2 separate regions of the Homo sapiens genome follow, and region 1 is linked to region 2. Evidence: fine-mapped expression QTL. A gene starts in region 2. The other region holds a variant in brackets. All regions are shown on one strand. Distances are from middle to middle.

Evidence for each region. PIP is the estimated chance that this variant, and not a neighbour inherited with it, causes the effect. A credible set is the group of variants that fine-mapping cannot tell apart.
Region 1: its variant is the best candidate, but not a certain one, in a credible set for the expression of EMC10 in monocytes (TOPMed, PIP 0.52).

Annotation. Positions count from the first base shown.
Region 1 is chr19:50,500,514-50,505,877 of GRCh38, forward strand. No RefSeq gene overlaps it. Among named protein-coding and RNA genes, the nearest start is that of JOSD2, 8.0 kb to the right of the region's middle. RefSeq lists a silencer at 1-7 and an enhancer at 818-1,481. The variant T/C (reference allele first, on the strand shown) is at 3,379.
Region 2 is chr19:50,474,276-50,479,639 of GRCh38, forward strand. It overlaps EMC10 (ER membrane protein complex subunit 10), which reads left to right and starts at 2,232. Exons shown (of 7, transcript NM_206538.4): 1 at 2,232-2,383; 2 at 3,654-3,726; 3 at 4,682-4,791. The coding sequence starts at 2,270. It overlaps GARIN5A (golgi associated RAB2 interactor 5A), which reads right to left and starts at 2,573. Exons shown (of 5, transcript NM_001308429.2): 1 at 1,855-2,573; 2 at 1,558-1,658; 3 at 1,050-1,228. The coding sequence starts at 2,113. RefSeq lists enhancers at 1,870-2,370, 2,237-2,436.

The sequences.
Region 1 (5,364 bases), 26 kb after region 2:
TGGAGAGGCCACTGGCATCTGTGCGGGGCGCCCCAGCCCCCTCAGCTCTGGGACAGGCCTGGCCGGGTGCCCTGGGGCAAGCGGTAGCCCTCTGAGTCCTGAGGCGCTCCCCTGGGAAGAGCAGTCCCAGCGGGTGGGGGCACAGGCGCTCTGCACTGTGAGGGGCAGACAGTAAGTGCTTAGTTGATGCAATGACCTGGTCTGTCCTGCCCGCTCTCACCTGCCAGAATATGGGGGTTGGGGCAGGAGGGAGTGGGAGCAGGAGGAGGTCAGCTGGCCCCTCTCCCCCCACCCCCAGCGCCCCCAGCTCCTCCTCCCGGGGCTCCTCACTCCGGACCTTATTTGGCCATAGCCCAGGACGCACCTGGGGGCCACAGCCCCGCCTGCCACTCAGGCCCAAGAATAGCAACACTCAGGCCCCCGCCAGTCTGTCTGGGACCTGCGATGGGACAGGCGACAGGCACAGGGTGGCAGGGAGGGGCCCAGGGGCACTGAGAGAAGGGGAGAGACACAGACAGAGGGGAGAGACAGCGAGCTGAGGAGAGACTGAGAGAGACCGTGGGAGAGACAGAGAGACAGGGTCAAAGAGACAGAGAGGGGTGGAGAGAAATGCCCAGCAAGAGAGATAGAGAAGGGAGGCTGAGACAGGCGAAGCGAGAGAGGGAGACACAGAGACAGAGGGGGTTAGCCAGGGGCCCGGGGCCAGACACCCAGATGGGGCAGAGAGCGAGACCCACACCAGCAGAGGCGTGGGGAGCCCGGTGGGCGGGCAGGAGGTGCAGGGATCTGGATGGGATGGGGCCAGAGCCGTTCGGGAGTCTGCAACCCCCAGCAGTTTCCCCTCCGGTGCTGTCTGGCTTTTAACTTTACGACCTGCCCTTTGACCTTGGGAAAACTTGCAAACCAGAACCTGCCACACCCTGGTCCATGCGCAGCCAGGGCTTTCATGAGTGTGTCCTGCGGGGCATCAGCTCCACCTTGCCAGGGGTGCATGGGCAGCTTGTGGGCTGCCTGGATGAACTGCCTGCCTGGGCGCATGGGCCTGTGGCTCCAGGAGGGGACACACCCCAAGCCAGGGACCCCTTGCCTCCCTGTGCCTGAGTCCCCCACTTCTGCAGGTGCCTAACGGGGATCCCCAGGTTCATCCAGGCCCCTGGACACCTTCCACTCATTCCTGCCTCCTCACCTCCCAGGGCCCACCAGCCTCAGACCCTCCTCTCTGTCGCCCTCAGGGGCCTAGCTCAAGCCCTGCCTCGCCCCTCCCAGCCTCCTCCCGGGCCTCCTGGCTTCTGGTTCCCCCTCCATTCTGTGCCTGCAGCCCCAGAGGGGTCTCTGCACCCAGAGCTGACCTGTCCTTCCCTTCTCGCAGCTCCCAGGCTGCCCTTGGAGGTCCCGCCTGGTTGGGTTCCTGGCCGGGACCCACCCTCCTCCTTCATCACCTCCTCAAATAACTCTGGCGATAAACAGCCGTGGCGTTCCAGGTCTCATCCGGGATGACTTCCAATTCTGGAGTGCCCTCCCGTGCCCCGCCAGCCTCTGCAGAGCCCTCCTCAGCCTTCCGTGGCCAGCCTTGTCTCTGGGCCATTTTATGCGACTTGCTTGTCCCGGGGTCCCTTCTCTGTTCTCTCGTCCCTGCAGTGCTCTGTGGGAACCCCATAAAAGCCCCCACTGCTGGGACAGAAACTCTTGGTGTCCCCTTGGGTCTCCCCACAGGGTGGGAGCTGGGAGGGTGGGCCGACACTTCCCGTCAGCACAGGCGTCCCTCCTCCGCTGTGGGGACCCTCGTGATGACCCGGGGCCCACCGGGGGATCCAGGACACTCTCCCTGTCCCAGTCCCACTCGCAACCTCACTCTCCCTTGGCCAAGTAACACAACATATTCACAGGCTCCAGGGATTAGGACAAGGCATCTTTTAACTGTATTTATTTTAATTAATTTTTTTTTTTGAAATGGAGTTTCACTCTTGTTGCTGAGGCTGGAGTTCAATGGCGCGATCTCAGTTCACTGCAACCTCCGCCTCCTGGGTTCAAGCGATTCTCCTGTCTCAGCCTCCCAGGTAGCTGGGATTACAGGTACCTGCCACCATGCCTGGCTAATTTTTTTTTTTTTTGAGACGGTGTCTCACTCTGTCACCCAGACTGGAGTGCAGTTGGTGCGATCTCGGCTCACTGCAACCTCCGCCTTGCAGGTTCAAGCAATTCTCCTGCCTCAGTCTCCTGAGTAGCTGGGATTACAGGCATGTGCCACCACACCTGGCTAATTTTTGTAATTTTAGTAGAGATGGGGTTTTCACCATGTTGGCCAGGATGGTCTCAATCTCTTTACCTTGTGATCCACCCACCTCAGCCTCCCAAAGTGCTAGGATTATAAGCGTGAGCCACTGCACCTGGCCTAATTTTTTGTTTGTTTGTTTGAGATGGAGCCTCACTCTGTCACCCAGGCTGGAGTGCAGTGGCACGATCTCCACTCACTGCAAGCTCCGCCTTCTGGATTCACGCCATTCTGCGTCAGCCTCCCCAGTAGCTGAGACTACAGGCGCCTGCCACCATGCCTGGCTAATTTTTTTGTATTTTTAGTAGAGACGGGGTTTCACCGTGTTAGCCAGGATGGTCTCAGTCTTCTGACCTCATGATCCGCCCGCCTCGGCCTCCCAAAGTGCTGAGATTACAGGCGTGAGCCACCGTGCCTGGTCTATTATATTTATTTTTATTTATTTTTTTGAGACAGGGTCTCACTCTGTCACCCAGGGTGGAGTGCAGTGATTCGATCATGGGTCACTACAGCCTCGACCTCCTGAGCTCAAGTGATCCTCCTGCTTTTGCCTCCCAAAGTGCTAGGGTTACAGGTGTGAGCCACCATGCCTGGGCTATTATATTTTGAGACAAAGTCTCTCTTACTCACGATCATGGCTAACTGCAGCCTTAACCTCCTGGGCTCAAGCAGTCCTTCTGCCTCAGCTTCCCAAGTAGCTGTGATTACAGGCGCAGGCCACCACGTCCCACTTATTTATTTATTTATGAGACAGAGTCTTCCTCTGTTGCCAAAGCTGGAGTGCAGTGGTGCAATCTCGGCTCACCAAAACCTCCACCTCCTGGGTTCAAGTGATTCTCCTGCTTCAGCCTCCCGAGCAGCTGGAATTACAGGCGTGCACCACCACACCTGGCTAATTTTTGTAATTTTAGTAGAGATGGGGTTTTCACCATGTTGGCCAGGCTGGTCTCGATCCCTTTACCTCGTGATCCACCCACCTCGGCCTCCCAAAGTACTGGGATTATAGGCGTGAGCCACGGCACCTGGCCTATTATTATTATTATTATTATTTTTGAGACGGAGTTTCACTCTGTCACCTAGGCTGGAGTGCAGTGGCACGATCTTGG[T/C]TCACTGCAAGCTCTGCCTTCTGGATTCACGCCATTCTCCTGCCTCAGCCTCCCCAGTAGCTGAAACTACAGGTGCCCACCACCACGCCCAGCGAATTTTTTTGTATTTTTAGTAGAGACGGGGTTTCACCATGTTAGCCAGGATGGTCTCAATCTCCTGACCTCGCGATCTGCCCGCCTTGGCCTCCCAAAGTGCTGGGATTACAGGCGTGAGCCACCGTGCCTGGTCTATTATATTTATTTTTATTTATTTTTTTGAGACAGGGTCTCACTCTGTCACCCAGGGTGGAGTGCAGTGATTCGATCATGGCTTACTACAGCCTCGACCTCCTGGCCTCAAGTGATCCTCCTGCCTCCACCCCCCAAGTAGCTGGGATCACAGGTGTGCACCACCATGCTTAGCTTATTTTAAAATTTTTTGTAGAGACGGGGTCTCACTATGTTGCCCAGGCTGGTTTCAAACTCCTGAGCTCAAGTGATACTCCTGCTTTTGCCTCCCAAAGTGCTAGGGTTACAGGTGTAAGCCACCATGCCTGGGCTATTATATTTTTGAGACAAGATCTCTCTTACTCACGATCATGGCTAACTGCAGCCTTAACCTCCTGGGCTCAAGCAATCCTCCTGCCTCAGCTTCCCAAGTAGCTGCGATTATAGGTGCTGGCCACCATGTCCCGCTTATTTATTTATGAGACAGAGTCTTCCTCTGTTGCCGAGGCTGAAGTGCAGTGGTGCGATCTTGGCTCACCAAAACCTCCATCTCCTGGGTTCAAGCGATTCTCCTGCCTCAGCCTCCTGAGTAGCTGGGATTACAGGCACCCGCCACTACAACCAGCTAATTTTTGTATTTTTAGTGGAGATGGGGTTTCACCATGTTGGCCAGGCTGGTCTTGAACTCTTTTTTTTTTTTTTTTTGAGACAGAGTCTCGCTCTGTTGCCCAGGCTGGAGTGCAGTGGCACAATGTTGGCTCACTGCAAGCTCTGCCTCCCGGATTCATGCCATTCTCCTGCCTCAGCCTCCCAAGTAGCTGGGACTACAGGTGCCCGCCACCATGCCTGGCTAATTTTTTTGTATTTTTAGTAGAGACGGGGTTTCACCGTGTTAGCCAGGATGGTCTCGATCTCCTGACCTCGTGATCTGCCTGCCTCAGCCTCCCAAAGTGTTGGGATTACAGCCATGAGCCACCGCGCCTGGCCAGTCTTGAACTCTTGACCTCGGGTGATCTACCCGCCTCGGCCTTCCAGAGTGCTGAGATTACAGGCGTGAGCCACCAGCCTCACATGCCACTTATTTTAATTTTTTTTTTTTTTAGAGACAGGGTCTTGCTATGTTGCCCAGGCTGGTCTCATACTTGTGGACCTCAGCCTCCCAAAGCACTGTGATTACAGGCATGAGGCACCACATCTGGCCAGGGTGTGGACATCTTTGGGGCCACTGTTCTGCCCGCCTGCCAATCAACGGAATAGAATCGAGAGTCAAGAAGTAAACTCAGGCATGGTGGCTCACACCTATAATCCCAGCACTTTGGGAAGCAGAGGCAGGCAGATTGCTTGAGGTCAGGAGTTCAAGACCAGCCTGGGCAACAAAGCGAGATCCCATCTCTACAAAAAAATTTAAAGAAAGTAGTCAGGTATGGTGGCATGCACCCGTGGTCCCAGCTACTTGGGAGGCTGAGGTGGGAGGGTCGCTTGAGCCCAGGAGTTCAAGGCTACAGTGAGCTGTGATTGACCCACTGCACTCCAGCCTGGGTGACAGAGTGAGACCCCTGTCTCAATCAATCAATCAAATAAAGAAGTAAACACCTGCTTTCTCCTTAGCAATGACCCCCGTGGAACCCAGGAGATCAAACTCATTTGTTTGCCACTGGTCTCTCTCCAGCACCGGAGGAGCGTGAGCCCCAGGGGGCACGGACTTGTGTTTTTTTCTGCTGTGTCACTGATGAGGAAACTGAGGCCCAGCAGTGAGAAACTGGCATGAGGTGGCAGAGA
Region 2 (5,364 bases):
TTCAAGCAATTCTCCTGCCTCAGCCTCCCGAGTAGCTGGGATTACCGGCGCCCGCCACCACACCTGGCTAATTTTTTTTTTTTTTTTTGAGATGGAGTCTCGCTCTGTCGCCCAGGCTGGAGTGCAGTGGCGCAATCTCAGCTCACTGCAACCTCCGCCTCCTGGGTTCACGCCATTCTCCTGCCTCAGCCTCCCGAGTAGCTGGGACTACAGGCGCTCACCACCACGCCCGACTAATTTTTTGTATTTTTAGTAGAGACGGGGTTTCACTGTGTTAGCCAGGATGGTCTCGTTCTCTTGACCTCGTGATCCACCCACCTCAGCCTCCCAAAGTGCTGGGATTACAAGCGTGAGCCACCGCACCCGGCCCTGGCTAATTTTTTGTATTTCTGGTAGAGACAGGGTTTTGCTATGTTGGCCAGACCGGTCTCAAATTCCTGGCCTCAAATGATCTGCCTGCCTTGGCCTCCCAAAGTGCTGGGATTACAGGTGTGGGCCACCGCACCCGATCTGCATTACTTTTTCAATGAAAAAATATGACGTAAAGGGGCAGTGTGGAGTGAGGCACAGGAGGGCTCAAGAACCATGAGATCCACAATCATGACAAGCTTGGCATTCCAATCCTGGCCCACTCTGGAGCCACAGTGGGACCCTGGGCAACTGGCTCCCGGCTCTCTGAGCCTCAGTTTAGCTCTTTGGCGGATGGGGCTAAGGGACCCCACCATGTGAAGATATGAGGTCAGAGGTGAGATCGTATGCGCGGCCTAGGGGCGTCTGGCATGAGCAGGCCCTGCGGAAATGATCATTCTCCTGACCGCTGCTGGGGCATGGCTGAGGACTGTCCCCTTCAGGTCTGTCTAATCTCTGATTTCTGGCCCCTGAGGGCTGCTCTGTCCTTGTTCTCCCGGGTAGATGGCAGCTCAGGGAGGGCCGGTAGCACTGCCAGCTCCTGGCCCTGGGGGTGGTCTGGACGAGGGGAGGTACTGCTGGGGGCTCAGGTGCCTGGAGCTGAGGGAGGAAGGGGTCTCGGCTGAGGTGGGGGCAGTTACCCGAAGAGTTGCAGGTGTCCGTTCTCCTTGGCAGGGCCGGCCAGAAGCAATAGGTCCGGGAGCTCCAGGGCTGGACTGGAGGCTGCCACCCCCATGGTGACCTCGTTGGCAACTTCTCCCAACCGAGTCACCTGGGGCCAGAGGTCAGAGGTCGGGGCAGGATAGATGTCGGGGCAGAACTGAGGAGGGATCAGAGGTTAGGAATCTTGGTAGGGGAAAAGGTCATGAACCAGGTGAGTTGAAAATCAGGCTGGGGGCCAGATATCTTGAAATTAAAGTTCAAGAATCATATGGGTGTGAAGTCAGGGAAACTGAGGCAAGGGAGTTACAGGCCAGGGTTCACAAAGAATCTAGAGAACTAGAAGTATGGGGTGTCAGAGATCACATAGGAGTTGGGAGTCGGGAATCCCACGAGATGGACGTTATGGGGGAGCAGGGGCTTTCCAAGTCAGGAGGAGGTCGAGGGGCAGGCCGAGGCTGGGGATGAGGGGGTTCTGGGGCTCCCTACCTGTACGAAGTTGCTCTCAAAGATGGGGAAGTCCCGAAACTGGTCGAATTCGCCGCTCTGGAGGTAGCGTTGGAGCCGTCTGGGACGGCCCGTGGGAGAGGCTGCAACCAGGAGGCATTTTACCAGGACGAAGTCTGGGGGTCGATCCTGGGAGGCTGTGCCTGGCTTCCCAACTGAGAGGGCCCGGCACAGCCCCGCGGAGAGGACGGGGTATCAGATGCCCCCGAATTGCCGGCCCCATCCTACTTGGTTCCTTCACCAGGTCCAACCCCTCTAGGCCTGGCTCCCCTCTCTCACCTGCCATCCCACCTGGTTCCACCTCGCCAGCTCCACCCAGGGCCGGCTTAGGGCCGCGATCCCGCCTCATTGCAATGTCCCCGTCCGACGGGAGCGGACGGAGGAGCAGAGGGAGAAAGCGAGGGGGCGGGACTACGCGCACTGTGACGTCATGATGCGGAGCGGGCTTTATGACGTCACACAAGAGCGGGCTCCTGATTTGTGATGACGTCCCTGGAGGGGGCGGCTCCTGGAGATCAGGCCAAAGGGGCGGCCCCATCCTGCTGACGTCAGGCCCCAGGTGCGGACGGGTGCCAGTGCGCAGGTGCCGGGGCCCAGCGCAGGCGCACGGGCGTCAGGATGCGGCCTGTTCCTCCCGGCGTGCTCCGCGGCTCTTGGCTCACAGCCGTCCCTTCGCTGGTGGGAAGAAGCCGAGATGGCGGCAGCCAGCGCTGGGGCAACCCGGCTGCTCCTGCTCTTGCTGATGGCGGTAGCAGCGCCCAGTCGAGCCCGGGGCAGCGGCTGCCGGGCCGGGACTGGTGCGCGAGGGGTGAGTGCTCTTTAGCTGTGCATAGCGGGCGCGGTCTACGGATGTCGCAGGTCTTGGGTCTTTAGGTGAGTTACAGACGGAAGGAGGCTGCGCAGGGCTGAGAGGGAAGAGGTGGGAGATCCCTGGAAAGCCAGGCCTCAGTCACGCACGCGCAGGAGGGGCCTCGCCAGTGCACCGGGTTGCAAGGACTGGGTGGGAGGACAAGCGCACCTGTCGGAAGGCTCTGGCTCGGGAATATGTATGAGGGGGCGGGGCTGGGGGTGTGGAATCTTGGAGAATCCGACGTCCGGGCGGTTGAAATGAAAGAGGCAAGGTGAAGCCGGGCGCGGTGGCTCATCTGTCATCCCAACGCTTAGGGAGGCCGAGGCGGGAGGATTGCTCTAGGCCAGGAGTTCAAGACCAGCCTGGGCAACATAGCGAGCCCTGTCTCTACAAAAAATACTAAAAAAAAAAAAAAAATTAGGCCGGTCGCGGTGGCTCATGCTTGTAATCCCAGCACTTCGGGAAGCCGAGGCGGGCGGACCACTTGAAGTCAGGAGTTCAAGACCAGCCTGCTCAAAATGGTGAAACCCCGTCTCTACTAAAAACACAAAAATTAGCTGGATGTGGTGGCAGGTGCCTGTAATTCCAACTACTCGGGAGGCTGAGGCAGGAGAATCGCTTGAACCCAGGAGGCAGAGGTTGCAGGGAGCTGAGATCACGCTACTGCACTCCAGCCTGGGCGACTGAGCGAGACCCTGTCTCAGAAAAAGAAAATAAGGCGTGGGAGGGGGCTCTTGAGGAAGTGGAGATGAGTTTTGTCTCCTAAATATGCGTGAGTATGCAAGTTTGGAGGTTGGAGAAAAGGAAAGCATGAATCTTGAATGTGCTTAATAGGGACTGAACTCAGGCTGCATCTTGGCTATTGGGCTGTCAGGTGATAAGGAGGCCATTTGAATATTAGCATGAAAAAGAAGGCTTGGGAGAGGGAGAGTGTCATTTAACTCATGAGTATTTGTGGCGCAAGGCTTGGAAGTGACCTTGGGATAGTTGCTTTGGCAATGAGGTTAGGCATGTTTGTAGGGTCTGGTTTTCTGGGGGTGAGGGAGTGCAGAGTATGAATATTCATGAAATGGGTGGTTTCTAGTGAAATAAAGGCAAGCAGCAGTGATTAACTTGAAGATAAGGCTCCTCCCTCAGCCCACCAGTCTGTCTGTCCTGGGTTCTGTGGGTGACTACTATGCTGAGGGCTTGGGTGGTCCTCACCTGGGGCCTTCTGTGTCCTCTGCAGGCTGGGGCGGAAGGTCGAGAGGGCGAGGCCTGTGGCACGGTGGGGCTGCTGCTGGAGCACTCATTTGAGATCGGTGAGTCAGGCAACGTCCTCTCCTAGACACTTAACATTGGTGCCCTGAGAAGTCAAGACTTGGAGTCTGGGTGCCTCCCGTCGTATGACATTTACTAACAACCATTTACTAACAGATTTGCCTCAGGTTAGGGGAAAGTGGGACATGAAAGAAGAGAAACACTCTTTAAATGCCCCCTTGCCTGTGAGACAAACCTCAGTTTTTAAAAGGTCATCACAGCAGTAATAATTTCAGAGCGGCTTTCCTGATCAGTCGCCACGTGCCCAGCATTAGCGGTTCCACGCTTTGCAAGTATTAACTCAGATGTCCTCACAGCAGCCATGTGAGGTGGTAGGTATTCGTGTCAGCCCCTTTTTCCAGAAGAGGAAACGGGCTCAGAGTAGGCACCACACAAGGTCTCATCGTGAGTGAGTGGCAGAGCAGGGGCCAGCTTCAAACCCAAACTTAAATTGCCATGATGCAGGTGTCCAGGTTCCCAGAGCTGGACGTCAGTGCTGCCCAGAGTGTAGTAATCGAGTCTGAGGCCCCGAACCTGAGGGCACAAACCCTGAAGCTGGTGCCCCTCTGCAAACCCTGGCATCTGCTCAGTGAACAGCTCCCCTGATTCTGACATGGCCAGGTAGTTGGGAATTCCTGAACTCCACAGCCTCCGTATTTTGCAGTTGGGGAAGCTGAGGCTCAGAGAGGTTGTGTGGCTATCCCTGGGTCACCTGGTGAGGCAGAGGCAGGATTTGGGAGCTGTGGGGTTCATGCATCTGCTACGGGTTGCCTTGTGAGGTGGAACATGGTGGAGGTGTCCCCACTTTGCAGATAGCAAAATGGGGGCCCAGATGGGGAGGGAACCTGGTCACTCGGGTGGAGGCCAGGCCAAAATTTGAAGCTGGACCTCCTGGCCCCTGCCTGGGTTGAAGGGTGGGCGGGGGAGGGGGCGTCTCTGAACCTGAGCTCCTCACAGATGACAGTGCCAACTTCCGGAAGCGGGGCTCACTGCTCTGGAACCAGCAGGATGGTACCTTGTCCCTGTCACAGCGGCAGCTCAGCGAGGAGGAGCGGGGCCGACTCCGGGTGAGGTGGGGCCCTCAGGGCTGGGTGTGGATGGGGATGGAGGGTTTCCAGCTGTCTCTTCAGCCACCCCCTGCTGGTCCCCAGCAGCCTTCCCTCCAGGCCCAGGTGGGCTCCCAGCACCACCTGCCACTCTCAGCCTCTGTCCTCAATGACTGCCCCTGGAGGAACGGCATTGCAGTTCGTCTTAGCGCCGCCAGGCATGGTGTCCTGCATCACGGCCTCTTCCTGCACTGCTCCCTCTGCTGGCAGACCCCCTTCCCCTGCAGGTTCACACAGTCGGCTCCTCTTCTTTTCCAGATCAGCTGAGCTGTTTCATGACCACTTAGATGAGATTTGTTTGTGAGGAGAAAGCCTCAAAATAGCTATGGTTGGACAGGAGCTCACTTCTGTCGCCCTGTGTTGTGGCAGCCTCAAGGGCCCAGCTCAATCCTCCGCAGGGGTCATGCAGAGAGGCCCCAGGGCTCCAGGCAGCAGGATAGAGAGGGAGAAAGAGGGGCAGAAGGAGCAGCAGCATTTAGAGAAAGCTTGCAAAAGCTGGCACAACCCACTTCCACCCATCAGCCAGATGTAGCT